7 linked regions of the Homo sapiens genome follow. The protein of the gene in region 4 purifies or fractionates together with the protein of the main gene of each other region. This does not show direct contact. Each region holds a gene or a part of one and is shown on either strand. Other genes may lie near its edges. The genes, in order: NLRX1, ORC5, TTYH3, C19orf38, PDS5B, SLC39A3 and SLC7A2.

Region 1 (4,269 bases), on a different chromosome or scaffold from region 4:
GCAGGGGTTTCTGTTTTTACCTCTTTCTTGCTTTCCAGGGTCCACATGATGCCTCCAAGACAGCAGGGATCCAGACACCAGGTGCACTAGTCTCAGCTCCGTGGTTCTCTAGCTGTTGACCTTGAGCATGTCGCTTCACCTTCCTCAGCTGCCTTTTTCCCAACCTAAAATAAGGGAGTTGGACTTGGCCAGGTGCGGTGGCTCATGCCTGTAATCCTAGCACTTTGGAAGGCCGAGGCAGGCGGATCACAAGATCAGGAGTTTGAGACCAGCCTGGCAACATGGTGAAACCCTGTCTCTATTAAAACTACAAAAAAAAAAATTAACCAGGTGTAGTGGTGCACACCTGTAATCCCAGCTAGTTGGGAGGCTGAGGCAGGAGAATCATTTGAACCGGGAGGCAGAAGTTGCAGTGAGCTGAGATCGCACCATTGCACTCCAGCCTGGACAATAGAGTAAGACTCTGTCTCAAAAAAAAAAAAAGAGAGTTGGACTAGATCATCTTCGAGAGTCTCTTGTAGCTACATAAGTCTAGGAACTTGTCTGATTTTACTTTACATACAACAGAGATTTACTGAGTGCCTGCCGTACCGCAGACCTGGTGTTAAGTTCTAAGTAAATAATTGTGAACAAAAACAGACGTAAAGGGGACAAAAAAATTTTAAAACACCCAAATGTGATCCCTCTCATGGAGGAGAGAGGAATGAATGTTAATCGAATAATCACACAATGAAATATAAAATTGCAAAATAACTGCTGCAAAGGGGCAGTACATGCTGCTATGAGAGCAAATACTGGGGGGTTTGATGTAGACATGGGTTCTGTGTATTGCATGGGATCTGCAGATGCTATTTCTTCCTTCTCTCTGTAGATGATCGTATCCCCTTCCTGATCCACTGGAGTTGGCCCCTTCAAGGGGAGCGTCCCTTTGGGCCCCCTAGGTGAGGCCTGGGTGTCATACCTTAGGACTAGTCTGGGCACAACAGAGCAGACTGGGAAGGGTCAGGACTTGGGGCTAGCTTGATCTCTTGGGGACCTTGGGGAGGGGCTTGGTCCTTTGGGGGTGGGAGGACAGTGGCAGCTCCAAGGCCTGAGAGGAAGTTGGCTTAGATCATCTGTGGTAGAAGGCATAGTAGTCAGTGGAGGGAGGACCCTGTGGGAAGTGGGTGGAGCCTCACATGGCCAGCCTGAGTTCCAGGCGGGCAGTCAGCAGTGGGGTCTGGAGGGCTAGGGCTAAGGCCTCAGCACCTGGGAAGGGTGTGAGAGTCAGACAAGCCTCTAAACTTGGGGGTCCAGTGTGGGGCCTTTATCTCAGGAAACCAGAAGTCTAGCAGTGCAGATAGGCTTGGACCCAGAGCCTGTGAAGGGGCTGATCCAAGTTACAAGTCCCAGCTCATCCCCTCTCCTTGTTCCCAGGGCCTTTATACGCCACCACGGAAGCTCGGTAGATAGCGCTCCCCCACCCGGGAGGCATGGACGGCTGTTCCCCAGCGCCTCTGCAACTGGTAAAGGGACTGGCTGGGACCCTGGTCAGGGGGTGTGGTGGGCAGACGGGGCTGGAAGGAGAAGCAGGGTGAGGGAGGCATAGAGGATCCACTGCCATCTTCCATCGGTGGTCCCTCCTCCTCTCTCTCTCTCCCTCCCATCCGTCTATGTATCCCTTCCTGCAATACTCTTGCAATGCACACTTATATGTACAAAGCGCTAGGAGAGCCATACCATCCCTATGCTCAACAAAGTTGGGTCAAGCAGGTTAAGACGGCACATAGGTCACTGTGAAACCAGTTTGTCCAGTGGCTTCCCACTTTCTGACATAGGGGTTCCAGACTTTCTGGACAGTCTATATTTTCTCAGGGAGTCTTGTGTGCCCACCATTGTGGGCCCCAGCATCTATGCCGTGATGTCCCAGCCTGACCTCACCACCGCCCTGATTGGCCCTAAGCTACATCTCCAGGCCCCTTTCCCTGACACATTTCCCTTATCTTCCCACTCAGAAGCTATACAGCGGCACCGCCGGAACCTGGCTGAGTGGTTCAGCCGGCTGCCCAGGGAGGAGCGCCAGTTTGGCCCAACCTTTGCCCTAGACACGGTCCACGTTGACCCTGTGATCCGCGAGAGTACCCCTGATGAGCTACTTCGCCCACCCGCGGAGCTGGCCCTGGAGCATCAGCCACCCCAGGCCGGGCTCCCCCCACTGGCCTTGTCTCAGCTCTTTAACCCGGATGCCTGTGGGCGCCGGGTGCAGACAGTGGTGCTGTATGGGACAGTGGGCACAGGCAAGAGCACGCTGGTGCGCAAGATGGTTCTGGACTGGTGTTATGGGCGGCTGCCGGCCTTCGAGCTGCTCATCCCCTTCTCCTGTGAGGACCTGTCATCCCTGGGCCCTGCCCCAGCCTCCCTGTGCCAACTTGTGGCCCAGCGCTACACGCCCCTGAAGGAGGTTCTGCCCCTGATGGCTGCTGCTGGGTCCCACCTCCTCTTTGTGCTCCATGGCTTAGAGCATCTCAACCTCGACTTCCGGCTGGCAGGCACGGGACTTTGTAGTGACCCGGAGGAACCGCAGGAACCAGCTGCTATCATCGTCAACCTGCTGCGCAAATACATGCTGCCTCAGGTGGGTGGCCCTTTACCCCAGGTTATCACTGCTGCCCGTTGACTCGCCCCCTAGGTCCTGGGTTACTTTAACTCCTGGTCCCTTCACTTCCCAGTGGTGCGACCCTGAGCAAGTCAGTAACTTCCCCAGCCTTCTGTTCCTTTCTTTTTGAGTTGCTCTGATCAAATGGGGTACTGCATATAATATTAGCACAGCGGCCTGGATCACAGCAGGTGTTCAGTAATTGCTAGTTATAACTGTTATCCTCATCAATGTCTTCATCCTTGGACACTCCGTCTTCAGGGGTCCCCTGGGAATAGAAGCAGTCAACAGGACACTAAGGTCTTTCTTAACTCTCAACCATGCTCTTCCCAGGCCAGCATTCTGGTGACCACTCGGCCCTCTGCCATTGGCCGTATCCCCAGCAAGTACGTGGGCCGCTATGGTGAGATCTGCGGTTTCTCTGATACCAACCTGCAGAAGCTCTACTTCCAGCTCCGCCTCAACCAGCCGTACTGCGGGTATGCCGTTGGCGGTTCAGGTGTCTCTGCCACACCAGCTCAGCGTGACCACCTGGTGCAGATGCTCTCCCGGAACCTGGAGGGGCACCACCAGATAGCCGCTGCCTGCTTCCTGCCGTCCTATTGCTGGCTCGTTTGTGCCACCTTGCACTTCCTGCATGCCCCCACGCCTGCTGGGCAGACCCTTACAAGCATCTATACCAGCTTCCTGCGCCTCAACTTCAGCGGGGAAACCCTGGACAGCACTGACCCCTCCAATTTGTCCCTGATGGCCTATGCAGCCCGAACCATGGGCAAGTTGGCCTATGAGGGGGTGTCCTCCCGCAAGACCTACTTCTCTGAAGAGGATGTCTGTGGCTGCCTGGAGGCTGGCATCAGGACGGAGGAGGAGTTTCAGCTGCTGCACATCTTCCGTCGGGATGCCCTGAGGTTTTTCCTGGCCCCATGTGTGGAGCCAGGGCGTGCAGGCACCTTCGTGTTCACCGTGCCCGCCATGCAGGAATACCTGGCTGCCCTCTACATTGTGCTGGGTTTGCGCAAGACGACCCTGCAAAAGGTGGGCAAGGAAGTGGCTGAGCTCGTGGGCCGTGTTGGGGAGGACGTCAGCCTGGTACTGGGCATCATGGCCAAGCTGCTGCCTCTGCGGGCTCTGCCTCTGCTCTTCAACCTGATCAAGGTAACATCCCGATCAAGGTAACCCCCCAACCTGCTCCTTCCCTCCCCAGCACCCCAAGCCGCCCACGCCCCCACATGGTTCCCTGTTCACCCCTTGCTCCTCTCCCAGCAGGAAACTGCTGCTTCCTGCAAAGGTATGAATCTTCTCCCTGGATCTGGTTTCAGCTCTGAGCATTTTGGCTTTTAGTGGGATTGCAGAGAGAGAAGCCACAAGGCTGGGGAAGGCTTGGTGGCTGGGGAAGGGAACCTGGGGACGTGGGGACTTTAATAATAATGCTACATGGATTCCTAAAAATGGTTTCCTTTTTGTGTCTTTCCTCCTAGGAGGCAGGCCTATCCTCTGCTTTGCAGGTCCAGAAACTCGATTGTGTCTGCTCCTCCAGAGGTGATTAGGCTCTGAGAGTGATGACTCATCCTAACTAAATCACCAGAGACGGGTTTATAAAGCAGATGCCATTTTATTCATTTATACTAGGAAGA
Region 2 (4,269 bases), on a different chromosome or scaffold from region 4:
CCTATTCTTATAAGACTTTCATCAGGGCTGAAATCGGCCGGTGATAACATCTAATCAACTGTCTTATGGGATACAGAGGGCTACCTGTAAGGAATACCTAGATGGAGATGTTCAAGGGGTACTCAGAAGTGCAGTCTGAGCTGGAGACTCAACTGTTTTCCAGATTTTCTTAGCCATTCATTTATAGAAGTTTGTTGTTGTTGTTGTTTTGCTTTATGTATGTTAATCTCTGTGATCATTTATCTCTTCCTTCCATCTCTCTTTTCTTACATCCATCCAGTTATTTGGTAGGTTTTATAGGTAGATATCTTTGTTTCTAAGTTTTATGGTACCTTTTAGAAATTTTCAGTATATTAACTATTTCCCCATGCCTAGTTAAAAAAACTTAGTGACATTATATTTAAAGTTTGCTATTAGAATGTAAAAGTACATGGACTCTACAGGGAAGTTTTGGCTTTTTTTTTTTTTTTCAGCAGTTTTGAAATAAAAAAGCAAATTCAGTAACAGTGTCTCATCTAGTATCCATTCAGGCTAATATTCTAAGTATAAAACTAGGCTTTGAAATTTTTTTTGTCAACTTCTGTGTTTAAATATTCCTTAATAGAGCTATTTCTAAACTTCTGTTTATAAATTTTCAGATAGTTCATATATATTTTTTGATCTTGTACCTGCATCTAATTGATTGGCAGGCACAAGAGTGGTTAAAATCAAGGGCCAATGGTAAATGGCCTGGCTAAAAATACTAACTTACTGGGAACCTTAAACAAAAGGAAATTGACATGATTAGAATATCCTGGAAGAGTTTTTCCTTGTAATTTTTGCAAAAAACTTGAGCCCTCTGGAACTAGGTTTAAAGTTGTAGTCATATGCAAAGAGCTCTTAACTAAGAAGTCTAAGGAGAGCATTGCACCAAGAAGTCAGAGGATCTTACAATAAGGAATGAATGACTAATTGATTCCTGTATTATGACTGGGAAATTTTGAATAATATATGGTTGTTTCCCTTTAAATTTTACTGTGTTTCTAAAATATGATTATTTCCAGCAGGATAAAGTATAAGGTTAGGACTCTTAATGTGGTATTTTATAAAGAGTCTGAGATATAATAGAAGTAGAGTAAAGATATCAAAGTTGTAGGGAGAAAATACGTTTTATACAAGGGGGAATAACAAAGTAAGGACTAGGATCAGGTGATGATTATTGTAAAAAAAGATTAATTCTTTTCATTTTATAAAACATGAAGAGCATTTTCTAGTTTGTTGGCAGTTTATGTACTATCCCCTTTTTCTTCCTAGTTGATTTACTTAATAGGAAGAAAAATAAACTAGAATCTACAGTATTTTTTCCCTTGTTACTGATTTTGCCGGTAATAAGGTTGTTGAGATTTTCTTTAGATGTCATTGTTTTCTATTTGTCTTAGTATTTAATAATTTTTTTTTTACCCTCAGTTTCAAAATTGTGATTTACTTTTTCAGAAGTATTTTTACTCAAAACACTTCTGACACCAAATGTGTGGGGTATTTTTGTTCACCCAACAACAAATTCTTCAGTTTTCTAGATATCAAATGGGTGTCCTAAAATTCAATTCACTTCTGACACTAACTACCAGAAGTTAGTGCAGACCTCACAAGTTAAGGGCTTAGTCCTACAAGAATATTAGCATTTCAGACACCATTCTAAGTCCCAGGTTTCTACCTGTACTCCAGAAAACTGGCTATAAATTGGGGTTTCACATGAGCCCCTCCTCAGGTTTGATAATTTGCTAGAATAGCTCACAGAACTCAAGGAAACACTGTACTTACTCCATTTATCATAAAGGATACAAATGAACAGCCAGATGAACAGGTACACAGGACAAGGACCAGTGGGGTCCCAAGCTCAGGAGCTTCTGTCCCTGTGGGGCTGGAGTGTGCTACCCTCTCAGCATGTGGATATATTTACTATCCTGGAAACTCTCAGAACCTCATCATTTAGGATTTTTTTATGGAGGTGCCATTATATAGTCATGATTTGATTAAATCATTGGTCATTGGTCATGGATTCAGTCTTTAGCCCTTCTCCTTTTCCCAAGGACAGGAGGTGGGGCCTTGATATGGTTTGGCTTTGTGTCCCCACTGAGATCTCATCTTGAATTATAATCCCGTAATCCCCACATGTCATGGAGGGACCTGTTGGAAGGTAATTGAATCATGGGTGCGATTCCCCCATGCTGTTCTCAAGATACTGAGTTCTCACGAAAGCTGTTGGTTTTATAAGTATCCGGCATTTTCCCTGCTGGCACTCATTCTCTCTCCTACTGCCCTGTTGAGTGCTTTCCACCATGATTGTAAGTTTCCTGAGGCCTCCCCAGCCATGCAGAACTGTGAGTCAATTAAACCTCTTTTCTTTGTAAATTACCCAGTCATGGGTATTTCTTCATAGCAGTGTATGTGACAATACAGGGCTCTAATCACTTGGTTGGTTCCTCTGACAACCAGTCCCCATCCTGAAGCTATCTAGGGGCCCGCTGTATTAGTCCATTCTCACACTGCTATAAACATACCTGAGACTGGGTAATTTATAAATTTATAAAGAAAAGGTTTAATAGACTCACAGTCTGTGGGCTGTACAGGCTTCTGCTTCTGGGGAGGCCTCAGGAAACTTGGAATCATGGTGGAAGGTGAAGGGGAAGCAAACACATCTTCACATGGCCAGCAGGAGAGAGAGCATGAAGGGGGAAGTGCTGCACACTTTGAAACAACCAGATCTCATGAGAACTCTATCACAAGAACAGCTAGGGGGAAGTCTGCCTCATGATTCAATCACCTCCCACGAGGCCCCTCCTCCACTGAAAATTTCAAATGAGATATGGGTGGGGACACAGAGCCAAACCATATCACCCATCAAGAAACACCTCATTAGTATAAATTGAGGTATGTTTTAAAAGGACTTATTATGAGTAACAAAAGATACTCCTCTTATCCTTCTCATTCAGGGAATTATGAGGGTTTTTAGAAGCTCTGTGCCAGGAACTGCAGTGAAGATCAAATATATATTTTTTATTATATCACAAATCACACTTTTGTATTCTAATCTTGTAATAGTTTTATTATTCCTTAATTGTTGCTGGGTCTGGGTGTTTTTTTTTTAATACCTTTGTTATAAAATGCTTGAAGATATGATTAGTGTACTATGTTAATCATTATAAGTTATTTTGTGTCCTGTGAACAGGCAACCTTCAAAAGATCCTGTCCCATGATCATCCTCCAGAGTATTCAGCTGATTTCTATGCTGCCTACATTAACATTCTTCTTGGAGTTTTCTACACTGTTTGTCGAGATTTGAAAGAGCTCAGACATCTGGTAAATGAACATTTTGCTTGAATATATATATATGTGTGTGTGTGTGTGTGTGTGTATACATATATGTGTATATATGTATTTTAATGTTTTCCATGTAGAAATGGTATGAGATAGGTTAGAAACTGAAATTTTATTCTGGGAATTTGCATATGGCCTCTAGAGACTAACATACCATAAGAAGGTAGATGTCTGTGGGTTAGTACAAACTTTGATTGTTTGATCTGATCAGAAAAATGTCATTCTCAGATCTTCTTACTCTTCCTTGTTTTTTCTCTAATTGCAGAAAATGCAGAACTCCATAAAAATCAAAATGAGGAATAACAGAAAAGAGATGTAAAAACTTGAGCAGTTTTACAACTCTGTTAATATTTTGTAACAGATTTTGTTCAAGTTTTATGTATGCGGTGATTGAGGTCTAGAATCTAGATGGATTTGAGTATGGTCAGAAGCTTTCATTGCAGGTCTTTCATTAACCACTGACCCTGAGCTGGTAATCTTTGTATAGATGGTTCTTTTTAATTTTTTTTTTTTAACAATTAGAATAGCTGTTTATATTTCATAGACAGTTTGGAAAATGTTGATGTTTAATTTTTCTTTGACCTTTTTTGTTTTAATTGTAGGGATGGGAAAGGAAAGAGACAAGAATTTCTGTTTTCCCTTTTAGAAATCTTCAATTAATTAAGATCTTATCTCCATTTAACAGAAAATAGTAATATATCTGAGGCTGGAAAACAGTCACTTTCAAAGTAACAGATTCTATGTCTCTTAGCACATTTTCTTCACTTTGTTCTTTTTCTGTTTTTGCCCTGAAAAGTATTACTTAGTTTCAGTGTGTGTTTGCGACAGAACACAGAAGGCAATCATTTAAAATTATGCTCACATTTAGTATGTTTTTGAAAGTTTCAGATTTCAGGGCTCCTCTGATTTACA
Region 3 (4,269 bases), on a different chromosome or scaffold from region 4:
TCGGGAAGTGGGTGCAGAGGCCAGGCTGGCCACGGCACGCTCCCCGCAGACAGCTGGGCTCAGGCCTGGCGCGTTGGGTGCCGGGGCTCTGACGTGGGATGAAGCAGCTGCCCGGTTTGCTGAGCACCCTGACACCCAGGCTCTGCATGCTCGCAGTGGTGGGCTGGGACCCGGGCAGCCCAAGTGGGCTCCCTTTGAGGGAGGCGCCATCTCCTTCCTCAGTTGGGGGAAGCCAAGTGAGGCTGTCCTGGCAGGGGCCCCGAAGCCTGGCCTCTGGCCCCCAGGGGCTGAGGAGCGAGGCTCCGTTTGCAGCTGGCCCCATCCAGGCAAGAACAAGAGAAAGCTGCCTCAGCCAATCGCGGTGCTCACACCTGTAATCCAGCACTTTGGGAGGCCGAGGCAGGTGGATTGCTTGAGCCCAGAAGTTCAAGACCAGCCTGGGCAACATAGCCAGACCCTGTCTTTACAAAAAATTTTTTTAAAAATTAGGGCAGAGGCCAAGCACAGTGACTCATGCCTGTAATCCCAGCACTTTGGGGGACCGAGATGGCAGATCACCTAAGGTCAGGAGTTCAAGACCAGGCTGGCCAACGTGGTGAACTCCCCGTCTCTACTAAAAATACAAAAATTAGCCAAGTGTGTTGGTGCATGCCTCTAGTCCCAGCTACTCAGGAGGCTAAGGTAGGAGAATCACTTGAACCTGAGAGGTGGAGGTTGCAGTGAGCCGAGATCATGCCACTGCACTCCAGCCTCAGTGACAGAGACTCTGTCTCAAAAAAAAAAAAAAAAAAAAAAGAAAGAAAGAAAAAGAAAATTAGCCAGGCGTGGTGATATGTGCCTGTGGTCCAAGCTACTTGAGAGGCTGAGGCAGGAGGATCACTTAAGCCCAGGAGGTTGAGGCTTCAGTGAGTGGTGATCGTGCCACTGCACTCCAGCCTGGGCCACAGAGCAAGACCCTGTCTCTAAAATAATTTTTTTCTTTTCTTTTTTTTTTTTTTTTTTAAATCGTAGACTTGGGCTGGGTGTGGTGGCTCACGTCTGTAATCCCAGCACTTTGGGAAGCTAAGGCGGGCAGATCACCTGAGGTCAGGAGTTTGAGACCAGCCTGGCCAACATGGTGAAAACCCATCTCTACTGAAAATACAAAATTAGCCAGGCATTGGTGGCGGGTACCTGTAATCCCAGCTACTTGGGAGGCTGAGGCAGGAGAATGGCTTGAACCTGGGAGGCGGAGGTTTCAGTGAGTCGAGATCACACCACTGCACTCCAGCTTGGGCATCACCAGTGAAATTACATCTCAAAAAGAAAAGGCTGGGCACGGTGGTTCACGCCTGTAATCCCAGCACTTTGGGAGGCCGAGGCGGGCAGATCATGAGGTCAGGAAATCGAGAGCATCCTGGCTAACACAGTGAAACCCTGTCTCTATTAAAAATACAAAAAATTAGCCAGGCTTGGTGGCGGGTGCCTGTAGTCCCAGCTACTTGGGAGGCTGAGGCAGGAGAATGGCGTGAACCCGGGAGGCGGAGCTTGCAGTGAGCTGAGATGGCGCCACTGCACTCCAGCCTGGGCGACAGAGCGAGACTCTGTCTCAAAAAAAAAAAAAAAAAAATCGTAGAGTCCCCGGTACTCCAGCTCCTGTGCTGCCTTTTCTGTTTTTCTCAGCGTCTCTCACCATCCAGCAGGCTTCACAGTTCACTTACGATGATGCTGAGTGCCTGTGTTCCCTCACCACCCTGCAGGCGGCGCCAAGGGCAAGGGTGCCTGGTGCTTAGCAGCCTCTCCCCACCGGGCATGGGCGTCCCCTGCCCACTGCCCCTGGGCATCAGCCCTCTGCACCAGGGCAGTGCCATCTGAGGGACGGGCTTGCCTCGCCCAGATCCTGTTTGGCCAGGGCTTATCTCGCTCTGCCTCCGTTTTCTCATCTGGCAAGTGGGAGTGGGTGGCTCTGGCGCCGCTGAGGAAGTGATCTGGACCTGGAAGCCCTTTGATGTACGCTGATGCCCCGAGCTCTGGGTGGACATGCCAGGCCGGTGGCTGCGGAGGTCACACCTGTTTAGGCTCTGCGTAATGCGTGTCTGGGATTGACCTGCTCTTCCAGTCCCCAGCTCCTCACCCCAGGAGGAGTTTCCCTGCGAGGCTGTGAGTCCCAGATGTGGGGTGCAGTACAGACAGGCCCTCCTAGAGTCATGTCCCACCGGAGCACAGGGTCGGGGGAGCGAGGGTGACTCCAGCCAGGGACTGGGGAGGCCTCTGCAAGTGGAGAGCAGAGGGAGGGCTCGCTGGAGGAGTCTGACCAGCCCGGGGCCAAGATGCGGCTGGTTGACATGGCCCCCAGGCCATGGGAGCCCAGGGGAGGCCCTGTGGATGGAAGTGCAGACGTGGGCATGGGTCCTGTGGAGCTCTGGTCCCGGGGGGCATGGTCAGCTGCCCCTACAGGTCTGTTCTGCCGTTGGCCTCTGAGCTATAAGGAGGGTACTGGCAGGGCCTGCAGTCACAGCCGGTGGGGTCAGCACCTCCACTCCATTCCCAGCCCCACACAGGCAAGGGCAGACCCAGGGAGCCCCAGAGCGTGGCTTTTCCAAGCTCCCTAACGTTTATAGACAACCCACTGAGCACAGAGCATGGGTACCGTGCTGGGACTGTTAATATGAGGCCCTGCCAAGTGACTGGACTGTCTCCGCCTCCCTGTGTGATCTTGGGTAAGCCCTACTGGGCCCTGAGGACCCCTCTGTGACATGAGCTCCCTGGGACCATGAGACCGCCCTGAGCTGATTCAGTTTCAGTGGCTCTGGTGCCAGCCCTGGGTCCTGCCCCTGGAGGGTGGGGGTGCAGGGCCCAGCAGTCCTCCTGCCATTGCAGGGGCGGTAGGCACTTGTGCATGGCTGAAGGAGTGGGAGGGTGCCCGCCCCTGATGCTCTGCAGTGCCCAGATTGCTGGCTGCTGGGCAGCCGTGGACACACCGGTGTGGCTTTGGACCATGGCGGCTCATTTCTGGGTGTGCCGGGCTGGTCAGCACCTCCCTGGCTGGGTGGAGGTGGAAAGGCCGCCTTCGGGTGTGGACGTCGGCCGGCTTCCTGGAGGGCAGGACACGGCATCCTCCCACTGCCTGGCAACCGTCTCCTGGGAGATCCAGCAGCAATCCCATTGCCCACTGTGGCTGAGCCTCTCATCCCAAGGGGGGGCCAGGCAGGGGACCATCTGCCCCAGCAGCTCCCAAGGCTGGGGTCCCAAGAGGGCCACACTGCTGAAGCATTGAGATGTGGGGAGAGAGGCGTTTCTCTGCAGTAGTGCCAATGAGGGCAGCGCAGGTGTGCCTGGTGGCCACCCCACAACACTGAGGGCCCCAGCTGCTGACACCCCCCAGGGCACCCCCAAGTTAGCCTCTAGGTGGTCCCTGGCCCCATGATGAGGCGCAGCCCTGTATCAGCTCCCCATCCCTCCCCCGGCACAGGAAGTGTGTGGAGGTTCTGGAGGGCTGAGCCGGGGGCAGGGCTATGCTGAATCCAGGGACCTGGGGTTGCAGGGCCTGTGTGCTTTCTCTGTAGCTTCTATGAAGCCCAGTTTCCCTGTGGATGAAATGGGGTGAGAGCACTCGGCCAGGCAGATCGAATGCAGTGCCAGGAGAAGGGACAGCTCTGGGGCCACGTTACCCTCCCTCCCCGCAGCGGGTGCTGAGGAAATGTCACTGTTGCATCAAATTAGCCACTTCCTGTGGGGGTCGCCTGGCCTCGGGACAGGGGAGCTCTGGTGTCTGTTCTGTGGTCTGTCTTTTGTGTTCAGAGACCTGGGGAGAGCCACACTGGAAGGCCGTGCTTGGAGCCAGACAGGGCTGTGTGTCCGATGGGGCGCCTGTATGCAGCCTGTAGCAGTGTGGGGCCAGCCCCACCATCTCATCCAGCGTGGGGGCACGCCATGGACGGTGCCCACCCCTGAGTGCAGCTTCTCGGTGCACAGACCCCAGACAGGATCAGACTCCTGATGGGGCCTCTTCCATGTTCACCCCTCAGAAACACTTTCATGGTCAGCAAGAGGGGGTTCAGTCCCCCACAGGCTCCCAATTTCCCTACCAGACCTGAAAACCTCAGGACTACAGCTGGGGTGGGGGATCCTGCCAGGACTCAGGTAGGAGAGTTCTGGGCCTGAGACGGGGACGGGCTCTGGGGTCCTGGGGCTGTCTCGGGCTGGGGGTGAGGACAGTAGCTGATGCCGGCAGCCCCCTCCCCAGGGCTTCGCTTCTTCGGGGGAGCAGCAGCACTTTTTTTTTTTTTA
Region 4 (4,269 bases):
AGTGATTCTCCTGCCCCAGCCTCCCGAGTAGCTGGGATTACAGGCACGTGCCACCATGCCCGGCTAATTTTTGTATTTTTAGTAGAGGTAGGGTTTCACCATGTTGGCCTGGCTGGTCTCGAACTCATGACCTCAGGTGATCCACCCACCTCAGCCTCCCAAAGTGCTGAGATTACAGGCAATTACAGGCGTGAGCCACCGCCCTTTTGTTGTTGTTGTTTTTTGTTTGTTTTTGTTTTGAGGCGGAGTCTCACTCTGTCGCCCAGGCTGGAGTGCGGTGACGCGATCTGGGCTCACTGCAAGCTCTGCCTCCTGGGTTCAAGCCATTCTCCTGCCTCAGCCTCCTGAGTAGCTGGGACTACAGGCGCCCGCCACCACACCCGGCTAATTTTTTGTATTTTTTTAGTAGAGATGGGATTTCACCATGTTAGCCAGGATGGTCTCGATCTCCTGACCTCGTGATCTGCCCGCCTCAGCCTCCTAAAGTGCTGGGATTACAGGCATGAGCCACCGCGCCCAGCCTGTTTTTTTTTTTTTTTTTTTTTGAGACAGAGTCTTGCTCTGTCACCCAGACAGGAACGCAGTGGCGCAATCATAGCTCACTGCAGCCTCGACCTCCTAGGCTGAAGTGATCCTCCCCTCTCAGCCTCCTGAGTAGCTGGGACCACAGGCATACACCACCACACTCAGCTACTTTTTAAATTTTTTTTTCTAGAGACAAAAAATTATGTTGCCCAGGCTGGTCTTGAACTCCTGGGCTCAAGTGATCCTCCCTCCTTGGCCTTCCAAAGCGTTGGGATTACAGCCGTGAGCCACCTCACCTGGCTAGAAGTGATGTTTAAGCAGAGACCTACAAGAATGGGTAATGGAGGCCGGGTGTGGTGGCTCACACCTGTAATCCCAGCATTTTGGGAGGCCGAGGCAGGCAGATCTCTTGGGGCAAGGAGTTCAAGACCAACCTGGCCAACATGGTGAATCCCTATCTCTACTAAGAATATGAAAATTAGCTAGGTGTAGTGGTGCATGCCTGTAATCCCAGCTATTAGGAGGCTGAGGCAGGACAATCACTTGAACCCAGGAGGCGGAAGTTGCATTGAGCCGAGATCCTGTCATTGCACTCCAGCCTGGGCAACAGAGTGAGACTCCTTCTCAAAAACAAGAAAAAAAAAATGGGTGATGGAGCAATTGGAGGAGAGCCTGGGGAGGAGGAGGAGCTGGCAGGTGCTCCTTCTGGAAGGCCTGAGATAAGACACCCATTTTCCTGAGGGCAGTGAGAGATACCCCTAGGAAGACTGTGTGTAGAAGGACTTGGTTCACTTTGTAGCTGTGAACAGTTCACCGTGCAGAATGGGTTGGAAAGGCGCCATAGAGGATGCTGGGAGATGGACCCCAATTGCTTCCCTGTGGGCTGGGGGGCAGTGCGGGGATGGCAGGGAGCAGGGAAGTTACAACTGGCCCCCAATCCTGGGTTTTCTTTCTCTTTCTGTTTCAGACATGTCCTTCGATAACTCCCTGTTTACCGTCTCCGCGGTGAGTGGTTCTTTTTCTTGGAACCGGTTTTCTGCTGACCGTCCTACCGGGAGAACGGGGCGGGCTCAAGGGGCACCACGAGGCTAAGTTGACCTGCTGTCTCTAAGCTGCGGGGGGGCTAGGAAAAGCCCAGAATCACTGAACAGGGACTCAGTAGTGAGCCGAGAGTTGGCTGTGAAAAAATCCCAGGGGGTGTGTTAATTGAAGGTGGTGACGTCAGGCTGTCTTGTGGCCACAGGCAGGCAGGCCCCTTGGTGGTATGTCCTGGCCTGGTCAGTGCTGCCTTTGGTCTCAGTCATGACAGCCCCTCAGAATGGTGACAGAGGATTCAGGGTGACCTGGTGGCCTCTCATAGAGGCTTGTGACAATCTGTGTCACAATCTGTGACAGGCTGTGGTCGGTCCCCTCTGGGTATAAAGAAAAGCATGAAGTTGCTGGGTGCGGTGACTCACGTCTGTAATCCCAGCACTTTGGAAGGCCGAGGCGGGTGTGGGTCAGGAGTTTGAGACCAGCCTGACCAATATGGTGAAACCTCATCTCTGCTAAATACAAAAAATTAGCTGGGCGTGGTGGTGCATGCTTGTAATCTCAGCTACTTGGGAGGCTGAGACAGGAGAATCACTTGGACCCAGGAGGTGGAGGTAGCAGTGAGCCAAGATTGAGGCATTGCACTCCAGCCTGGGCCACAAGAGCAAAACTCCATCTAAAACAAACAAACAGATAAAAATGAAAAAGTACAAATGCCAAGGCTACCCCAAAATGTAGCTGTGCAGAGAGTCCCATAGACCCAGGTTTAAATCCCAGCCCTGACACTGTGTGACAATGGGGAACAATATCCCCCAAAAGCAGAGGGAGGGATTTGTTTTTTTTCAAGACAGAGTCTAGCTCTGTCGCCCAGGCTGGAGCACAGTGGTGTGATCTCGGCTCACACAACTTCCGACTCCCGGGTTCAAGCAATTCTCATGCCTCAGCCTCCCGGGCAGCTGGGATTACAGGCACATGCTACCACACCCAGCTGATTTTTGTATTTTTAGTAGAGACGGGGGTTTCACCATGCTGGCCAGGCTGGTCTCAAACTCCTGACCTCAGGTGATCCACTGGGATTACAGGTGTGAGCCACCATGCTGGCTGGCTGCGGAAGCTGCTTTAGACAGGAGATCAGGAAAGTCTGAGATGGGTGACAAGCAGGAGGTGGGGAAGATTGGGGATGATTGATCCAGGCTGAGGACACATTTTTGGCACAGCCCAGTAAGCTGGGGTGGAGTGAGGAGTCGAAGGGGACCCCATGAAGAACTTTGATTTTACTGCTATTGAGCTGGGATCCCGGAAGGGTTCCTAGTATAGGAGGGAGGGGACCGGATTCAGGTGCACACAGGCGCCCTCTGGTGGCTTCTGCAGGAGGACAGATTTGGGGAAAGCGGGGATCAGTGGAAGGCAGGAGCCTGGAGACTGAAGAGCTGGGCCAAGCGTGCACCAAAGGGTGGGTGGTTTGGTCCAAAATGTTGGCAGTGGAGTTCGAAGAAGTGATCAGATGCAGGTTAGGGGAGATATAGGGGAGAGAAAACACAGAGCTGATTTTTGATGAGGGGGCCAAGGGAGAAGAGGGAGGCCAAGGAGGGTGAGGCTTGGAGGGTCAGGAGTGTGGAGTCAGCCACCTCAACCCATGGCGCCTGGGAGCAGATGGAGAGGGGAGTCTACAGTTCAGGAGAGAGGTCAGTTCTAGAGATAGACTAGGAGTGCCTGGGATACAGATGGTAGGAAGGAAGGGGGCTTGGCACGGGCCTGTGCAGCCCTCTGAGGTCTCTGCTTCCAGAATAAATCCTGAGGCCATAAGAAAAACCCGGCAGGCAGGGCTCAATCTAAACGTTTCCATGAGAATCCACACCGCACAGAACACCAGCCTGGTGATGCCCCCTCTCCCCACTTTTTGAGGTAGTTTTTATTTATTTTTGTTTGTTTTTTGAGATGGAGTCTTGCTCTGTCACCCAGGCTGGAGTGCAGTGGCTTGATCTCACTGCAACCTCCACCTCCTGGATTCAAGCGATTCTCCTGCCTCAGCTTCCCGAGTAGCTGGGATTACAGGCGCCTGCCATCGCGCCCGGCTAATTTTTGTATTTTTAGTAGAGACGGGTTTTCATCATGTTGGCCAGGCTGGTCTCCAACAACCGACCTCAGGTGATCCGCCCGCCTTGGCCTCCCAAAGTGCTGGGATTACAGGCATGAGCCACCATGCCCGGCCTTTTATTTGTTTTTTTACTTTTTTTTTCTTAAATTAAGGACCAGGCGTGGTGGCTCATGCCTGTAATCCCATCACTTTAAGAGGCCGAGGTGGGAAGATTGCTTGAGCCTGGGAGGTTGAGTCTGCAGTGAGCTATGATTGCATCACTGCACTCCAGCCTGGGTGACAGAGCAAGACTTTGTCTCAAACAAACAAAAAATTTCCGTATGAAAAGCATTCACATGTCAAAATATACAATAAAGTTTTCTTACTAAGCCATGCCTCTTCATCCATTGGTATTCCTTTCTGCAGACATACAGGTAACCACTGTTAGCAGCTGCACGTGGCAAATACACGCAGAAGTGGATCTGTACCTTCACCCACCACCCCCGCCAATTTTTTTTTGAGACAGGGTCTTGCTCTGTCTCCCACGCTGGAGTGCAGGGGCACCATCATAGCTCACTGCAGCCTTGATCACCTGGGCTCAAAAGATCCTCCAGCCTCAGCCTCCCGAGTAGCTG
Region 5 (4,269 bases), on a different chromosome or scaffold from region 4:
AAGTAGAAGCTCTTGAGCACTTTTTCCCCCTCTGTCTCTTTGGTACTATTCCTTTCAGCTTTCGACTCTCCTAGCCTTCTGGGGTAACATAAATAGGTCAAGTCTTTATAGCTGTAGTTGGAATTCGGAAGGTCACTGGCATTTAAGACTTGAACATAGGAGCATATATCACAATATATGCTCCTATGATATATCAGGATGTGATGCTTGATAAGTGGGGTCCCTTTCTAAGGAATGCAGAAGAGCATGGTGGTTAATTTAAGCATATAGACTTAAGAGTCAAGACAGCTTGGGTTTTTATCTCCTCTAGCTAAACAAGCAATTACCTAATCTTACTAAATCTCAACTTCTTAATCTGAACAGTGGGACTAACAGCAGAAACCTCATTTTTAAAAGCAGCTTTATTGAGATACAACTCACATACCATAATCCATTGAAAATACACAATTCATTATTTTTTAGGATACTCATAGGTTTGTGCAGCCATCATCACAGTCTGATTTTGGAACATTTTTGTCTTCTGTGAAAAACGCCAAACCAAATGTAAATGAGTAGAGCCATTACGGAGAATATTATGGGGGCTCCTCAAGAGGTGAGAAGGGATAGAGAGAGGTTGGCTAAAGGCTACAAAATTTAGCTAGATAGGAAGAATAAGTTCTAGTGTTGTACTGGGTGACTACAGCTGACCCTTGAACAGCGAAGGGGTTAGGGGCACCAACCCCTGTGCAGTTGAAACTCCACATATAACTTTTATTTCTCTGAACTTTGGTAGTAATAGCCTACTGTTGATTGAAAGCCTTACTGATAACATAAACAGTCAGTTAACACATGGAGTGCAGTGGCACGATCTCGGCTCACTGCAACCTCTGCCTCATGGGTTCAAGCGACTCTCATGTCTCAGCCTCTGGAGTAGCTGGGATTACAGGCACCTGCCACCACGCCCGGCTAATTTTTGTATTTTTGGTGGAGACGGGGTTTCGCCATGTTGGCCAGACTGGTCTTCAACTACTGACCTCAGGTGATCCGCCCGCCTTGGCCTCCCAAAGTGCTGGGATTACAGGTGTGAGCCACTACGCCTGGCCTCCATTCTGTATTCTTAAAGCAAGCTAGAGAGAAGACAATGTTATTAAGAAAATTATAAGGAAGGAAAATATATTTGCTATTCATTAAGTGGAAGTGGATCATCGTAAAGGTCGTCAGCCTTCTTGTCTTCCTGTTGAATAGGTTGAGGAGAAGGAGGAAAAGGAAGGATTAGTCTTGTTGTCTCGAGGGTGGCAAGGTGGAAGAGAGAGAGGAGGTGGAAGAGGAGGCAGGAGAGGGAGGCGCACTGTAACTTTTACTGAAAAAAATCCATGTATAAATGAACCTGCACAGTTCAAACCTGTGTTGTTGTTACATATTTTCAACTAGCTAGAAGAGAGGCTTTTGAATGTTCCCAACACAAATAAATGATAAATGTTTGAAGTGATGGATATGTTAATTACCCCGATTTGATCATTACACATTGTATATGTTGAAGTATCACCATGTAACCCACAAACATGTACAATTATATGCTGGTTAAAAAGCATAAAAATAAAACCCCCGAACCTACTAGCTGTCACTTCCCATCACCCCTTATTTCTTTAGTGTTTGGGATAAGCCAGGTCAAATGCTTAGGTTGGTGCCAAAATGTAAGTACACAGTAAAAAAGCAGTTATAACTTTTTGCAGGGAGACTGTGTGGCAAAGTCCATTTACATAGTTTTAGAGAATGCAAAAATGGGATAATTACTGAATGGATGTTTGCATACTTCCATACTGTGCAAGGATGTGGTGCACAGTGCTGGCTAGAGATACAAAGATGAAAGATACTCAATCAAGAGATGTATATTCAAGTGGGAGGAAAGAGGCTGGTATAAAAATACTTATAAAACAAGCCAGAGTATAGTTAGTGCCTTCAGGAAGGGCTCAATACAATATTTGGAATTGGAAACTTGACAAATGGAGATTAGTCATGTTACTCTGAGAGTACAGGAACTATGAAAAAATTCTTGAAGGAGCAACCATTTTGACCAAGTCTTAGATGATGGAAAGATGGGATTTCTGGCTTTAATGAAGAGTAAAGAATGCAATGCTTTTTGAAGTCTTAAACTATTTGTTTTTGTTTTTGTACCCTCATGCTGCTGCCAGATGATTGCCTCTGGAAGCTATTCCTACACCTTTTTTTGATGTTTCTAATCTGTTATGAACCTGGGGGACTAAATTAGTAAATAATCTTTTAGTGAGAGCCTGATGTCTGTATGAAAAGGATACCAATATATGGTCTTACGCTGTCGTTTTGATATAGTTGCTTTTTTAGTTTATTCTGTGGGTCTTGGTTTCATCCCTGTTAATTGGTCTTACAGAATAAGTAATTCCTAGATAAATTAGCCTCATATACGTGTCTTCTTCTCCAAGGCTTCTAGTAACAACTATGTCCCCTGACCATTCTCCTGAATTTCCCATCTTCTTTTTCTAGTGCACTGTTGGACACAACACCTCCAGTACAATATATCCCAAACTGATCTACCTTCTCTTACTCTTTAACATCTTTCCAACTTGTACCTTGATTAATAACAGATTTCTTTCTTAAAAAAAAAAATGTTGTAGGGGATGACATGACTAGGTTTATCATCATGCTAGAAACCTGGGAGTCATCTTGACTTCTCCATCTCCCCTAACTCTCACATTACATAAGTTACCAAATCCTGTTGATTCTGATATAGTATTTTTAAAGGTTATTATTATTTTAAATTATATGCACATATATACTCCAAAAGTAAGACGGCAAAAAGGAAAAAGATACACAATAAAAAACCTCTCATTCCTTCCCCATTTGCCTCATTCCTAGACTCCCACAAAAGTTTATATATGTTAATGTTATGTTATATCCTTCTGGGGGTTTCAAAACACAACTATGTAGAAGGAACCACATACTTAAACAAATAGTAACACATAGCATGGGATTTCCACAATAGAGGTATACACAGAGTCTGTGAGAAGGAGAAAGAACCACCATGCATTCCCTAAAAGAAGAGTTAGGTATTGGAAAAACCTTCCTATTGGGTCCTGAATAGAAGATGAAAAGGAGAACTTTGGACACGTGAATAAACCAAACTGAGCTGTTAATAAGCAGAGAACTATCAATTAGACACAGAGACAAAGGGTCTAACAATAGGATGCTAGAACATTTCATTGTTTGGGGGGTTCAAAGGACCTATAAGGAAATAAAAGAAAATGCTGGCAGCCACACACAGTGGCTTACATCTGTAATTCCAGCACTTTAGGAGGCCGAGGTGGGCTTCTTGAGGCCATGGACTTGCAGTTACTTTGGGATCTAGCAAAGATTTCAGCGCATTGTAGATGATGAATATTTATTGAATATGTGTAATAATGTATATATACTAAACATATATGTGACAACCCAAGACAAGGAAAATTAATACAATATTAAGCTCACAGATTTATTTAGAAATATAAAATTTTATTTTTATTGAGGTGTAATTAAAATACAGTAAAATGTGCAGATCTTAGCTGTTCACTTTGATGAGGTGTGATGATTATACACATGTAACCAATAACCACAAGAAGATGTAGAGCATTTTTATTACCCCACAACGTTTCCTTGTTGCTCTCTCCATTCAATTTCTTTTGCCTCCAAACACTCTTTGATTTTTAAATGTAGATTAGTTTTGTTCTATCTTCATACAGTGTGTGCTCTTGTGTATCTGGCTTCTTTTGCTTAACATATTTTGAGATTCATCCATGGGGTTGGATGTATCAGTTTTTATTGCTAAGTAATATTTCATTGGGGGAATATTTCACAGTTTATCTTCTGTTGATGGACATTTGGGTAGAATCCAGTTTTTGACTATTATGAATAAGGCCTATACAGATCTTTTTGCAAGTGTGTGTTTTCATTTCTCTTGAGTAAATACCTAGGAATGGAATTGCTGGTTTGTAGGCATATGTGTGTTTAACTTTACAGGAAACTAGTTTTTCAAAGTGGTTTTCCTTTTTATATTCCCACCTGAATATATGAATGTTCTAGTTGTTTTACATCCTCACCAACACTTGGTTAGTCAATCTTTTTAATTTTAGCTATTCTAGTGGGTGTGGAAGGGTATCTCATTGTGGTTTTATTTTGGATTTCCTTGATATCTAGTGATGTTGAGCACCTTTTTGCATGGTTGTTGACAGTATATTTTCTTTCGTAGGATGCCTCTTCAAGCTTTCTGCCCATTAAAAA
Region 6 (3,266 bases), 8.1 Mb from region 4:
GCTACTAGGCAGGAGAATTGCTTGAATCCAGGAAGCGGAGGTTGCAGTGAGCGGAGATTGCACCATTGCACTCCAGCCTGGCAACAGAGCGAGACTCTGTCTAAAAAAAAAAAAAGAAAAAAGAAAGAAAGCTAATGCAGTGCCCCTGATGTTCACAGTTGCTGGACTGAGACATGAGCCTCCAACTGTGTGGTTGGGCTCGGTAGCACATCGTGGGACTTGGGTGTGCGCCCACAGATGGTTTGGCCCTGCAGTGACCAGAGCAGCCCAAGCCGCCACCATGGTGAAATTGCTAGTGGCCAAAATCCTGTGCATGGTGGGCGTGTTCTTCTTCATGCTGCTCGGCTCCCTGCTCCCCGTGAAGATCATCGAGACAGATTTTGAGAAGGCCCATCGCTCGAAAAAGATCCTCTCTCTCTGCAACACCTTTGGAGGAGGGGTGTTTCTGGCCACGTGCTTCAACGCTCTGCTGCCCGCTGTGAGGGAAAAGGTAAGGGCTCCCTGGGCACTAGCAGCAGCCCTTGGCACCTTATGGCCAAGGGACTCTGATGCATTTTCAACACTGATGCCAAGTTCAGTGAAGGCCTTGATGCTGTAAGGGTGACGGAAAGTAGGAAGTGAATTTGCTGTGTGATTGTGAACTGGTTACTTTCTGTCTCTGTGCTCTACCGGCCAAACAAGGGGTTTGGACCAGACCTGGGATTCCCAACAGGTGGACTTGTCGGTTGTCACCTGATAATCAGACCAGACTACCCACCTAGGTAGGGCACACTCTGTCCTGAAGCTGGAAAGCATGGCCTCTCTTCGGTTCCTATATCAGTCAGCTACTGTTGCGTAACAAATTATAGCAAACTGAGCACCTTAGGACTACAGACGTTTATCATCTCACAGTTTCTGTGAGTCAGGGGTCTGGGCACTGCTTCAGGAGCTCACAAGGCAGCAGTCACAGTGTCTCCTGGGCTGTGGTCTCATCTCAACGTTCAACCGGGGATGGGTCGGCCTCTAAGCTCATGTGGTTGTAAGCCAGGTTCAGTTCCTCATTGGTTGTCAGACCGAAGGTGTCTGTTTGTCAGTGTCTGTTGGCTGGGGCAGCCCTCAGAGCCTGGCCACGTGGACCTCCCCAGCATGATCAGTTCCTTCATCAGCAAATGGAGAAGATGGCCATGACTCTGTGTAAGACAGAGGGCACAGTCCCATGTCATGCAGAGGTGACAGGGTATCCCTTCCCCTCTGCCCCAGTGTCCTGCTGGTTAGAAGCAAGTTCAAGTCCTTCCCATACTCAAGTGGCCAGGACCTCACAGGGTATGGCTGTCAAGAGGCAGGGGCTTCTGGGGCCATCTTGGAGTCTGTCCACCCCAACTCCTGACAGCATCATCCTCTGCTGACCTGTTCCTTGAGCTCCCCCATATCAGCAGCCCAGAGTGTGGGTCCCCTGTCAGGCCACAGTGTGACCAGCCCTGGCCATGCTTGCTGGGTGACCCTGGGTGAGTGGCTTCCTCTCTCTGGGCCAGTGCCAGATGTGACATTGAATTTGTGTTGGTTACATACTTGGTGGAGATATGAGGACCCCCTGTTCTTCCTCCCAACGAAAGCATGGAAGCCCTAAGCTTATCCCCCAACCCCTGGCCCTGCTTTTCCTCGTGCCTAGTGTCCAGAAAGGAGGAGAAGGGCTGTTGTCTGGGATTAAATCATCTGAGCCTGTTAGTGTGGCAGAGTAGAGTTCCAGGGTGGCTCCCTGAGCTTCCAGCCCCTGCTCCGCACGCCCCATGCTCTTCCCTCCCCTCGAGTGTGGGTAGGGCTGGGACTGCCGTGCGTGTCACTCCTGCCATTATGTCAGAATCCCAGCAGAGGGGATGTTGCAGCTGTGATGACCGCCCCAGATCGGTTAGCGCTGAGTTCATCAAAAGGGAGGGGGTGGGCCTGGCCTAATCAGGTGAGCCACTCACCCTCCTGCTGGCCTTGGAGAAGCAAAAAGCCAGGGTGTGCCAGGAGAAGGGCATGAAGCGAGGACCCGAGGGCAGCCTCTCGGTGCCAAGAGCCATCCCCGCCAACAGCCAGCCAGGACACGGGGCCTCAGTCCACAGCCACCAGGAGGTGGACTCTTCCGACCTCCAGTGAGCTTGGAAGAGGACCCTGGGTGTCAGTGAGATCTCAGCCCTGATGACACCCTGCGAGACCTGGAGCGTAGGGCCCAGCTAGCCCGCACCTGGATTTCCACCGTTCAGAGCCGAGACACCGCATTCCTGCTGTTCCGCGTGGCTGAGTCTGCATTCGTTCGTTACGCGGTGTGTGAAGACTGACATCTGCACTGCGAGGATGGAGATCTTGGTCATCTCTGACATCTCCTGCATCGCAGAGGCCACTGCCAGCCCCCCTTTTCCCCCATGGTCATGGTGTCACCCCCGTCACCCTCTGACTGCAGGCCTGGGCGACTGCGGGGAGCTTGCTCTTCCCTCCCCCTCATCACAGTGGCCTTCTCATGGCACCCAAACCTTTCCCGCCGTTCTCCTGTCCTCGGGCTGGTCAGGCGGATGAGGTCCCTACTCCCGAGCCCCCAGCCTCACCCACTGCAGGGCCAGGCTCTCAGTCACCCCTGGAAAATGGTGCCTGGTTCACAGCTCCCGTGCATCTGCCTCATCTCTCCTGATCAACGTCTGTCTCTTGGGAGTAGCTAGAGTTCCTCATGAGCTTGTCCTCAAGCGAGGCATGCATGAGGCCTCCAGCCGGTGGTCAGTGAGGGAGTTAAGTGGCTTCTCCGTGGAAACACAGCCTTCTGCTGCAGCAGAGGCTCACCCAGCGTGAACTGCCCCCAGGGAACACTGGGCGATGCCTGGGGACATTGTGGTTGTCACGATGGGGGGTGCTCCTGGCCTGGAGTGGGTGGAGGCCAGAGACACTGCTCAGCAGCACCCTGCAGTGCCCAGGACGGCCCCGTCCCAGAGAACAATCCAGCCCCGAATGTCAGCACCTTCCCCCTACCCGAGTTGTGAAAATAAAAAATGTTTCCAGACATTGCCAGGTGTCCACACGGGCAGAATCGCCCTGGTTGAGAACCACTGTGTGCGCGTGCTTGTGTGTGCACCTGCGTGTGCGCGTGTGTGTGCGTGCGTGTGTGCACATATGCGTGTGTGTGTGTGTGTGTGCACGTGCGCAGGTTGTAATGAAGTCTCCGCTGGGAAGGAAGCAGGGAAGCAGGCATTGTTGAGTGTCGATTGTGTTGTGATTTTCCTCCACTTTGGTCTCGAGGTCTCTCTGGAGGGTGGCTG
Region 7 (4,269 bases), on a different chromosome or scaffold from region 4:
GCGAGTTTTTTCCTTCCTGAAATTCACTTTATATTCACTCCCGCGGTGTTCCTTATCTGTTCTAGCAAAGAGTACTTATTATTCATACGCGGCGCTCATAGTTCGCAGAATATTTGCAGCTTGCCAAGGTACTTGTCCTGACAAAAATTCAAATGGCAACTCTTCATGATAATTTGTATCAAAGAGTACTTATTATTCATACGCGGCGCTCATAGTTCGCAGAATATTTGCAACTTGCCAAGGTACTTGTCCTGACAAAAATTCAAATGGAAACTCTTCATGATAATTTGTATCAATGTGGGTATGAATTCCTGTGGGAAAAGCCTGAGCTCAAAGCTTTAGGCTACTCTGTATGGACTTTTTGTTTAATGATCATATGAAACAATACAATTTTATATTTATGTTTGAATTCACCAGCAAGTTTTAAGTGGTTTCTTTAATTCAGTTGTGATTTAAGCAATTGTTTGGGAGACGTCTTTGCTCTTGAGTTCTGGGGAAACCTAGAAGGAGCCTGGGGTGAGTTTTGACCCTCCATCCTTAAGTCCTCAGCAACACTCAGGTGTGTTTTGGCCACATGAGGAATTTACCTTTGTTCCACAGCAGCCTATGGCAAGAAAGTGAAGTCACATTGGCTGTGATTCCCCAAGCAAAGTGAGATTTCGATTTCAACTCAGAGGCCTGGCGTTTTGCATTGATCTGGACCTTTGTGAAGGCATTGGTAGAAGAATAACAAACTACTAAGAATTCAGTTTATTGATCATCCTGAAACAAAATGGCACTGCTGAGTGTTTAGTGAGCCTCAGTGAGGAGTAAGTATTGGGCACCAGCTGTGTGCCCTCTGAGAATGTGCCAAGTGCTTAGTGAGATTGAGGCCGGTGGTAAATGAGATCTTGTGGCTCTCCTGGACCACTGGTCAGTTTCTTATGGAGTTCAGTGTCTAGGGGATTGAAACCCTTACCTTTCAATTAGTTGCACTTTAAATTATTTCATACTTTAAAGTCTTGTATTGCAGTGATATTTTTAAATGTTTATGTAATTCTAATTGGCGGAGCCCATACTTGATAGAATTGCCAGTGGTTCTTATTATGGGATAAAATTGAGGTCATTTTGAGTGACCAAAGTAACAATTAATTCTATCCGGTTTATCAATTGTATTTCTATATGCATTCCTTAGAGAACCCATATATGTTCTCAGTTACTCTTCTACCACATCGTCTTCTCTTTGGCTTTCATCTTTATTACCAACTTTTATTAATACATTTGGAGAAGTTAAAGGTCATACTCTTTTTAGGTAGAATTGTATAATATTTACAACTTAAGCGCCATACTGTTTGAGCAGTCTCTGAAATTTTACTGCAACTCTTAAAAGATTGAGTAACTGACTCAAACAGGAGAACTAAAGAAATTCAGGTCCAGAAAAAGAAAAGATTGCGTGACTTTTACAGTTTTTTCTAATGAAAGGCATTTGCATGAATGGTTCCCATAGTTCCCTGATACACAGAGAAGGAGCTCCTCCTCCTTTACTCCGATCTGCTGGCCATTCTGTTTACATTCGTGCCTCTGTGGGAAAGAAGAACTCTAAGATCATAGCAGCTGTTCTGTGCAGCAGTGGCTCCCTTGATGTTTTAGGGGAGTTAAGGAAATTAAGTGATGGAAGCATGTACCACCCCCCACCCCCCCGCCGCCCACCCGATCCCATCCAGTTCACTTCCCTGTAAAAAAGAATGCACATCTGTATGTAAACTGTGCCTCTTCCCTCTGGCAATTTTGTGTAAGATTTCTGGAAGGTCAAGACTTCCCACATTCCAACCAGTGGGCAACTAGGGTTTCAGAAACCCAAGATAAGAACCTTGGAATGCAGAAACCATTTCAACTTCTCGAAGAAATATCTTAGGAGAGAATCCTGTGAGCAGGATGGGGCCTTCTTGGTCATGCATCCTTTCCTCTTGCTGAAGAAGACCGCTTATGGCCTCCAAGTTGGGGCTGAGAACTGGCCCAGAGGTAGATGTGGCAGTTGGGGTCACTCTGAGTCACAGAGGTATGACAGTAACATAGCAATGACCCTTCTCAACTAGTGCCATGGTGGATGCTGTTCCCTGGCCTCAAGGGTATACTTGACTTCAGTGATCTCCAGCCTCGCCATCTTTCTTTCCTCCAGATTCTTAGACTCGTAGATTTCAATGTCTTCCTATGGGCCAGAAACAAATTTACTTGAGTTTTGGCTGAGATAATTTAAACTGAGTATTTGTAAATGTCTGACATAAACAGAAAAAAAATGGGTAAGCATAGTCAGTGCCCTCTTTTCTTATCTAAAATTGGAGCATCTTTAGTGTGACATTTGAAATCTAATCTTGCCAGTTCAATGTCAGTCTGATACGGATATTCTTGTAGAAATCTCTGAGATTTAATAAACTTACAGTTGAGTAGAACTGAATCATACTAAAGACCAGTGGAAGCATCCTTGCAGGGCCTTATCAGTTTTTACAATGTAAAATAACTAACCCATAGCGTTTCCTTTTACAGTTAATGTTTGTTTAATAACATGCTTAAGGTATAATATTGAGACGAAGTGAGGAATTTTAATGCTGATTTAGCTACTGAAAAATTATCTCTTGCAACACTTGCTTTACTTGTAGTTAGGATTTGTAATGTTTTATTGCAAAAGAAAGCCCTCTTTTAAATGCGTTGCATTTGTGGCATAGTGGTTGTGTAGGTGGAGTAGGACTTGTGTCTGTACAATTCATCAAGAACATAGCACAGAGCACTTTTACATGCCATTCAGAGACAATAGTGGGTGTTGATAAAATTTGTAGTACTAGAGCTGTGAAAACAAGTGCTGGGCTGGTGCCTGCTTTAAACTCTCTTGAAACTTAGCAGAATTTCATTTTTATAACAAAAATCACTATTTTCTTTAAAGAGGATTGATAACATGAATAAGTCTAGGTGTCCTGGAAATTCATTTGGTTATATCACTATAAAAATGGTGAGACACTGTTGTGGTAGTTGGTTTTGTATTTTAAAGCGTAAACTTCACAGTACATTTAAAACTGTCCTGTGCGAAATTTCAGAGGCTTTGGACACGTTCCTTTCTAGCCTCCCTCGCCGTGGACAGTTATCAAGTTTCTGGCACGGTGCTAGACGAATATGGAAGAGAAGTAAGTGCCTCAGAATGACATTTTAGAACGCTCTTTTTATAGGTTAAGAGACTGAGATCTTGAGAGGTGTAACTCATCTGAGGTTAGACAGCTAGGGATACAGTGAAGACTGGAGTCCAAGCATATTGAAAAGTCAGACCATTCTGTTTTTGTGAAAACAAATAATAATTACTAGAATGCACTACTTCTGTGGAATTTTTTTTTTTGAGACAGACTCTTGCTTTGTTGCCTGTCTGGAGTGCAGTGGCGCAATCTCGGCTCATGTGAGGTTAGACAGCTAGGGGTAGAGTGAAGACTAGAGTCCAAGCATGTTGAAAAATCAGACCATTCTGTTTTTGTGAAAACAAATAATAATTACTAGAATGCACTACTTATTTGTGGAATTTTTTTTTTTTTTTTTGAGGCAGACTCTCACTCTGTTGCCAGGCTGGAGTGCAATGGTGCAATCTTGGCTCACTGCAACCTCCACCTCCCAGGTTCAAGCGATTCCCCTGCCTCAGCCTCCCAGGTAGCTGGGACCATAGGCGGGCACCACCATGCCTGGCTAATTTTTTTTGTATTTTAGTAGAGATGGGGTTTTACTATGTTGGCCAGGATGGTCTTGATCTGCTGACCTTGTGATCCACCCGCTTCGGCCCCACAAAGTGCTGCGATTACAGGCGTGAGCCACTGTGTCTGGCCTATGTGGAATTTTTAAATTGGGGATCAGTACAATTACAACTTAACATTTTTAGATTTTAATGGTTAACTATAATTTATTATATAATTTTAAAAAGCTGGAAACTATTTAAATGTGTGTGTGTGTGTGCATTATTATTATTTTTGTGTGTGTGGAGACGGGGGTCTCACTGTGTTGCCCAGGCTGGTTTTGAACTCCTGGCCTCAAATGATCTTCTCGCCTTGGCCTCCCAAAGTGCAGGAATTATAGGCATAAGCCACTGTACCTGGCCTTTTTAAATTTTTTGAAGAAAGGATTTTGAACATCCACAATGCAAAGAGATGAAAAATATTTGAAGTGATGGATATGCAAATTACCCTTATTTGATCATTGCTTATAGTATATACATATTGAAATATTCTGTGTCCTATAAATATGTACAATTATTACATGTCA

What was found.
Region 1: the proteins of C19orf38 (region 4) and NLRX1 purify together in Homo sapiens (affinity purification with mass spectrometry; one large-scale study listed by BioGRID and IntAct). This does not show direct contact.
Region 2: the proteins of C19orf38 (region 4) and ORC5 purify together in Homo sapiens (affinity purification with mass spectrometry; one large-scale study listed by BioGRID and IntAct). This does not show direct contact.
Region 3: the proteins of C19orf38 (region 4) and TTYH3 purify together in Homo sapiens (affinity purification with mass spectrometry; one large-scale study listed by BioGRID and IntAct). This does not show direct contact.
Region 5: the proteins of C19orf38 (region 4) and PDS5B purify together in Homo sapiens (affinity purification with mass spectrometry; one large-scale study listed by BioGRID and IntAct). This does not show direct contact.
Region 6: the proteins of C19orf38 (region 4) and SLC39A3 purify together in Homo sapiens (affinity purification with mass spectrometry; one large-scale study listed by BioGRID and IntAct). This does not show direct contact.
Region 7: the proteins of C19orf38 (region 4) and SLC7A2 purify together in Homo sapiens (affinity purification with mass spectrometry; one large-scale study listed by BioGRID and IntAct). This does not show direct contact.

The regions. Positions count from the first base shown.
Region 1 is NC_000011.10:119,171,485-119,175,753, forward strand, and holds part of NLRX1 (NLR family member X1 isoform 1 precursor), read left to right. Parts: intron 1-871; coding exon 872-941; intron 942-1,416; coding exon 1,417-1,505; intron 1,506-1,994; coding exon 1,995-2,614; intron 2,615-2,968; coding exon 2,969-3,790; intron 3,791-4,269.
Region 2 is NC_000007.14:104,187,321-104,191,589, reverse strand, and holds part of ORC5 (origin recognition complex subunit 5), read left to right. Parts: intron 1-3,208; coding exon 3,209-3,339; intron 3,340-3,622; coding exon of another isoform or gene 3,623-3,676; exon of another isoform or gene 3,677-4,269. UniProt on the Homo sapiens protein: Component of the origin recognition complex (ORC) that binds origins of replication. DNA-binding is ATP-dependent. The specific DNA sequences that define origins of replication have not been identified yet.
Region 3 is NC_000007.14:2,641,765-2,646,033, forward strand, and holds part of TTYH3 (protein tweety homolog 3), read left to right. Parts: intron 1-4,269. UniProt on the Homo sapiens protein: Calcium-independent, swelling-dependent volume-regulated anion channel (VRAC-swell) which plays a pivotal role in the process of regulatory volume decrease (RVD) in the brain through the efflux of anions like chloride and organic osmolytes like glutamate.
Region 4 is NC_000019.10:10,861,678-10,865,946, forward strand, and holds part of C19orf38 (protein HIDE1 precursor), read left to right. Parts: intron 1-1,492; coding exon 1,493-1,530; intron 1,531-4,269.
Region 5 is NC_000013.11:32,592,559-32,596,827, forward strand, and holds part of PDS5B (sister chromatid cohesion protein PDS5 homolog B), read left to right. Parts: intron 1-4,269. UniProt on the Homo sapiens protein: Regulator of sister chromatid cohesion in mitosis which may stabilize cohesin complex association with chromatin. May couple sister chromatid cohesion during mitosis to DNA replication.
Region 6 is NC_000019.10:2,734,272-2,737,537, reverse strand, and holds part of SLC39A3 (zinc transporter ZIP3), read left to right. Parts: intron 1-158; 5' UTR 159-280; coding exon 281-490; coding exon of another isoform or gene 491-598; exon of another isoform or gene 599-3,012; intron 3,013-3,266. UniProt on the Homo sapiens protein: Transporter for the divalent cation Zn(2+). Mediates the influx of Zn(2+) into cells from extracellular space. Controls Zn(2+) accumulation into dentate gyrus granule cells in the hippocampus.
Region 7 is NC_000008.11:17,503,409-17,507,677, forward strand, and holds part of SLC7A2 (cationic amino acid transporter 2), read left to right. Parts: intron 1-4,269. UniProt on the Homo sapiens protein: Functions as a permease involved in the transport of the cationic amino acids (L-arginine, L-lysine, L-ornithine and L-homoarginine); the affinity for its substrates differs between isoforms created by alternative splicing.